Linked DNA regions of Homo sapiens: region 1 is linked to region 2. Evidence: fine-mapped expression QTL. A gene starts in region 2. The other region holds a variant in brackets. All regions are shown on one strand. Distances are from middle to middle. Region 1 has its middle 76 kb from the start of SLC4A7. Region 2 holds the start of SLC4A7 (solute carrier family 4 member 7).

Region 1 (2,909 bases), 76 kb before region 2:
TCATGCCACTGTACTCCAGCCTGGATGACAAAGCGAGATGCTGTCTCAAAAATAAATAAAGCCATTCCTTCTTTTTGTATTGCCTTTCTCTCAAATTTCTGGCTGTCAAAATATTACCTGTCTTTAGGACTCAGCTCAAATTAGGGGCAGTACAGCATAGTCTTTTCTTTTTTTTTTTTTTTGAGACGGAGTGTCTCACTCTGTCATCAGGCTGGAGTGCAATTCTCACTGCAACCTCCGCCTCCTGGGTTCAACTGATTCTCGTACCTCAGCCTCCTGAATATGTGGGACTACAGGCACGCACCACAACATCCGGCTAATTTTCATATTTTTAGTAGAGACGGGGTTTCACCATGTTGGCCATGATGGTCTCGATCTCCTGACCTGGTGATCCATCTACCTCGGCCTCCCAAAGCGCTGGGATTACAGGCGTGAGCCTCCGTGCTCGGCCTTTTTTTTTTTTTTTTTTTTTTTTGAGACAGAGTCTTGCTCTGTCACCCAGGCTGGAGTGCAGTGGCCCAATCTCAGCTCACTGCAAGCTCCGCCTCCCAGGTTCACGCCATTCTCCTGCCTCAGCCTCCTGAATAGCTGGGACTACAGGCGCCTGCCACCACGCCCGGCTAATTTTTTGTGTTTTTGGTAGAGATGGTGTTTCACCATGTTAGCGAGGATGGTCTCGATCTCCTGACCTCGTGATCCGCCCGCCTCCCCTCGGCCTCCCAAAGTGCTGGGATTACAGGCAGGAGCCACCGTGCCCGGCCCTTTTTTTTTTTTTTTTTTTTTTTCTCTAATTAGCCCTAGTACTCTAGAAAACAGAGCCCAAGGCAGGGATTAAAGTGCTAATGCTTCCTTTGAGAAGTGCAAACCCACAGCAGCTGGGATGGGGAAAAGGGGAAGTGGGGCAAGAAAAGATGTGGAGCAATATAAAGTAATGTTTTACTCTGTTGTACAATATAAAGTAATATATTGCACAATATAAAGTAATATATAAAGTGCAATATAAAGTGCAATAATATAATGTATATATTATATATTAATATATATTAATGTTATATAATTATAATATTATAATACTATATTAAGGTAATATATAAAGTGCAATAATAATATAAAATTGCAATATAAAGTAATGTTTTACTCTGTTGTGCGGGTGCGTGCTCAGCACACAGAACTTCTCTCACATTGAGGT[T/A]GTCCGTGGAAGAGAGGAAGGTAGACGAAACCCTGTCTCCCGCTTCCAGTTGGCCAAAGTGTGTTTTTTGTTGTTGCGGTTTTGTTTTGTTTTATTTGAGACAGAGTCTCACCTTGTCACCCAGGCTGGAGTGTAATGGCGCGATCTCGGATCACTGCAACCTCTGCCTCCCAGAGTTCAAACAATTCTCCTGCCTCAGCCTCCGGAGTAGCTGGGATTACAGGCGCCCACCACTACGCCCAGCTAATTTTTGTATTTTTAGTAGAGCCACGTTGGCCAGTCTGGTCTGGAACTTCTGACCTCAGGTGATCCGCCCACCTTGGCCTCCCAAAGTGCTGGAATAACAGGCATGAGCCACTGCACACGGCCCTAATTGGCGAAAGTTTGCTCTGCAGGCAGAAACTACCTTGCATTCCTGCTTGCATCATTCTTTCCTTTTGCCTATCTGATCCTATGCCCTGCAGCACAGCATTTCATCCAAATCCGGAAGCAGTGGGAGAAGCCAGACATTCTGGAAGAGCGTCTGCTTGATCCAGCTGCAGAGCACTAGCCAAGGGGGAGGGCCTAGTTTGTCCTCAGCTGCGGTATGATTGAGGAGGTGGACCATGCCAGAGGATATGAGAAGTCACAAAGCATCTGTGTCCGTGCAGCATCTAAGAGAGTGGGTTCTAAAGAACATAGGAAAAGACCATTTCCTACCACTCACCAGCTGCGTGACCTGGGTAAAACACTTTATGCCAATGTTTTTTCTTTTTTCTTTTACCTTCTTATTTTTAAATAATTCTAAACTTACAGGAAGTAGCAAAAATAGTACAAAATTTCCACTATACCCATCACTCACTGCTATGGACTGAATGGTGTCTCCCCACAATTCATATGTTAAAGCCCCAACCCTCAGTGTGATGGTATTTAGCCTGGTGCCTTTAGGAGGTGATTTGGTTTAGATGAGGTCATGAGAGTTGGGTCTCATAATGGAATTAGTGCCCTTAGAAGAAGAGGCACCAGAGAACTTGCTACCCCCCTGCCATGTGAGAACACAGTAAGAAGACAGCCATCTGTAAGCCAGGAAGAGAGTTCTTATTAGAACCTGATCATGCTGTACCTTGATCTTGGACCTCCATCCTCCAGAACTATAAAAAAAATAGACTTCTGTTGTGTAAGCCACCTAGTCCGTGGTATTCTGTTATAGCAGCCCAACCTGCCATATGTCACCAATTGTTAACATTTTGCTGCATTTGTTTTATCATTCTTTCCTTCTCTCTCTCTCTCTCCATACACATGAATGCACACACATCTAATTATTACAGTTTTCTGAAGTATTTGAGAGGAAATTTATGACATCATGCCCCTTTATTCCTAAATACTTCAGAGTAAATTTCCTATTAACAAGGACATTCGGCTGGGTAAGGTGGCTCACGCCTGTAATGCCAGCACTTTGGGAGGCCGAGGCAGGCAGATCACCTGAGGTCAGGAGTTCAAGACCAGCCTGACCAACATGGAGAAACCCCGTCTCTACTAAAAATACAAAATTAGCCGGACATGGTGGCACATGCCTGTAATCCCAGCTACTCGGGAGGCTGAGGCAGGAGAATGGCTTGAACCCGGGAGGCAGAGGTTGCTGGGCAACAGGAGTGAAACTCCACCTCCAAAAAAAAAAAAAAAAACCAAGGACATTCCTGGCCAAGTGCAATGGCTCATGCCTGTAATCCCAGCACTTTGG
Region 2 (2,857 bases):
GGCGTGATCTCAGCTCACTGCAACCTCTGCCTCCTGGGTTCAAGCGATTCTCCTGCCTCAGCCTCCTGAGTAGCTGGGATTACAGGTGCCTGCCACCATGCCTGGCTAATTTTTGTATTTTTAGTAGACACGGGGTTTCGTCATGTTGGTCAGGCTGGTCTCGAACTCCTGATCTCAGGTGATCCGCCCGCCTCGGCCTCCCAAACTGCTGTAATTACAGGCGTAAGCCACCGCGCCCGGCCAAATTTCTCATCTTTATGAAACACTCAAGAGAAACCTGTTAACAATAATGAAAATTATCAGCATGCTATGTGCCAGGCACTTTTATGAATATAAATCCCCTTAATCCTTCAATGAGCCTGCATGGCAGGTATTACAATCATCCCGTTACAGAAGGGATATTTGAGAGACGGCCTACAGGGTGGACTCAATAATGTGGCAGCTGGCCGGGTGTGGTGGCTCATGCCTGTAATCCCAGCACTTTGGGAGGCTGAGGCTGGTGGATCACCTTAGCTCAGGAGTTCGAGACCAGCCTAACCAACATGGTGAAACCCCGTCTCTACTAAAAATACAAAAAGTTGCCGGGCGTGGTGGCGCGCGTCTGTAGTCCCAGCTACTCAGGAGGCTGAGGCAGGAGAATAGCTTGAACCCAGGCAGCGGAGGTTGCAGTGAGCCGAGATCATGCCATTGCACTCCAACCTGGGCTGGTGCAAGACTCTGTCTCAAAAAAAAAAAAAAAAAAAAAAAAAGTGGCAGCTGTCGTGGTGCTCAGTGGGCGAGCAAGCACAGGAGGACACCTGGTCAAGTGTACCCCATCTTTCACGGTCCCTGAGTTGGGGTTCGTGCCTACTGGATTGACAGAAAAGAAACTTCCAGGAGTCGTGAAGACTCGTTAGTTGCTTCGGAGGGTTATCCTGGGCGTCCTTGACAGAGGTGGCGTCCTCCTTCCCTGCAGCCTCTAAAGAATGTAGTTAGGAGCCAAGGGAGGTGGTGACCCCCCACCCCATTGAGAACGTCAGGGGAGCTTCCGACTTGAAAAACTAGTTAGACGCTCAGCTTCGGTCAATTAAGCTTATACAAAGAGGGGCGGTGCGTCCTGAGGAGGTGGCACGGGGGAGGCGAGCGGAAGTCCGCCAGCCGCCGATTGGCTGGGACAAATGTCCGTCCCGCCTCCCTCCCGCCCCATCTCCCGGTGGCCTAGCGGCGCGGCCCGCGGGCGCGCTGAGGAGGCTGGCGGTGCCAGACTGGCAGGGGGCGTGACCCGAGGAGGCGGGGCGGGGGGGCGTGTCTTGCCTGGCCCCGGCGCCGGGCTCGTCACGGTTTGCGGCTCCGCCCCCGAACCCCTCCTCCTACGCGGCTCTCCTCCTTCCCGCTCGGTCCGCCGGTTCGCTCAGTTCTAGCTTCAGGTTCCACGCCGCGGCCTCGCTCTCCTACTAAAGCCAGCCCAGCAGTCGCAGCGCGCACACGCACGCCCCGCGTCTCCCGCGCCCGGCGCCCGGCTCTCCCCACGCGCGCACACCTCGCGCACGGACGCACCCACGTTTGTCCTCGCGCGCCGGGGGCTCGGCGGCGGCGGCAGGGGCAGCGGCAGAAGCAGGCAGACCGCGCGGGGCAGTACCGTAGCGGCCGTCACGGGCTGGCCGGCCGGCCATGGAGGCTGATGGGGCCGGCGAGCAGATGAGACCGCTACTCACCCGGGTAACGAGCAGGGTGAGGGCGCCGCGGCGGTGGGGCTCCTCCGCAGGGGGAGGGCGCGGGGCGAGGCAGACAAAGGCGGGGGGCGCGGCGGGCGTCGCGGCTCGGCCACCTCGTCCCAGGCCCGTCGCCCCTCCACCTCCCGGCGGCCGGCGCGCCTCGCCATCCCCTTTGTGTGGCGGCCTGGGGCGCGGGTGGGAGGGGGCCAGCGGCTGCGCTCGGGAGGCCCGAGTCGGGGCGGCCGGCGGCGCGCCGCGGGCATCCTCTGCGCGGCTCAGGCGGGACCCCGACATCCCCGCAGAGGCCGCCTGTGACCCCGACCATCCATCCCTTCCCTCAGCGCTCGCCTCCCCTGTTTCTTAGCGCGCTCCCCAGGCGGGGTCCCGGTTCCGGTTGCCTTGGCGCAGGAGTTTCAGATTAGCCCTCGAAAACCTATCTTTCTTCTCCTTCTAAGGAGGACGGCGGCTCCACCTGTCTCTAGCCCCAGGCAGTGGTGAAGAGCTGGTTGAATCTTTCCCCCTCTTTCCGAGTGTCCCCTCCCGCTCCGCGGTGCGCTTTGTTCGGTGAGTTCTCCGGCCGCGTGGACTGGCCGCGCTCCTTCCCGGCCAAGGCTCTTTCGCTGTTGCCTGCCGGGTCCGCCTTCTCCACTGGCTGGGACCCGGGGAGTATCCTCCTGCCGCAGGCCAAGTAGAAGGAGGAGGGTGTCCTGAGCTGTCTGGTGCTCCTTCTCTAACTCAGCTAGCAAGATCGCGTTTCCTACTGAGACTGGCTTTGATTTCAGGGTTAGAAGAGAATGGGGATGGACTTAAGGCCGGTGTTCCCATTTGTGATGATGGGTGAACGGCCCATGCTCAAGAAGCGGACTTCCTGCTTTCTTTAGAGCACATGCGTCCCCGCAGTTGTCTCTTTCTCCTTTCCAAGTTCGTGACTCAAAGGAGATGGAAGTATTCTAAATTTTCCTACTTCTAATTTTTACTATGCAACCAGCAAAGGCGGGAAGGTTGCAGGGAAAATTGTCCGGTCTTTCACAACTAAGAGGAAAATTACTTCTCCTATGTTTTTATTCAAGAGTTGTCTTTAAAACTGCCTGCCGGCTTTCCCTTTTAACTTTTAGGATTATAGTTAAGGTTATGGAAAGTAGTCATTCATTAGTTCAGTACGT

What was found.
Region 1: its variant is fine-mapped to the expression of SLC4A7 in whole blood (INTERVAL, PIP above 0.99).

What each region holds. Positions count from the first base shown.
Region 1 is chr3:27,558,827-27,561,735 of GRCh38, reverse strand. No RefSeq gene overlaps it. Among named protein-coding and RNA genes, the nearest start is that of SLC4A7, 76 kb to the right of the region's middle. The variant T/A (reference allele first, on the strand shown) is at 1,190.
Region 2 is chr3:27,482,920-27,485,776 of GRCh38, reverse strand. SLC4A7 (solute carrier family 4 member 7) reads left to right here and starts at 1,393. Exons shown (of 26, transcript NM_001321103.2): 1 at 1,393-1,710. The coding sequence starts at 1,651. RefSeq lists enhancers at 735-864, 1,343-2,119, 2,135-2,194, 2,225-2,434, 2,595-2,654 and silencers at 995-1,474, 1,505-1,864, 1,895-1,964.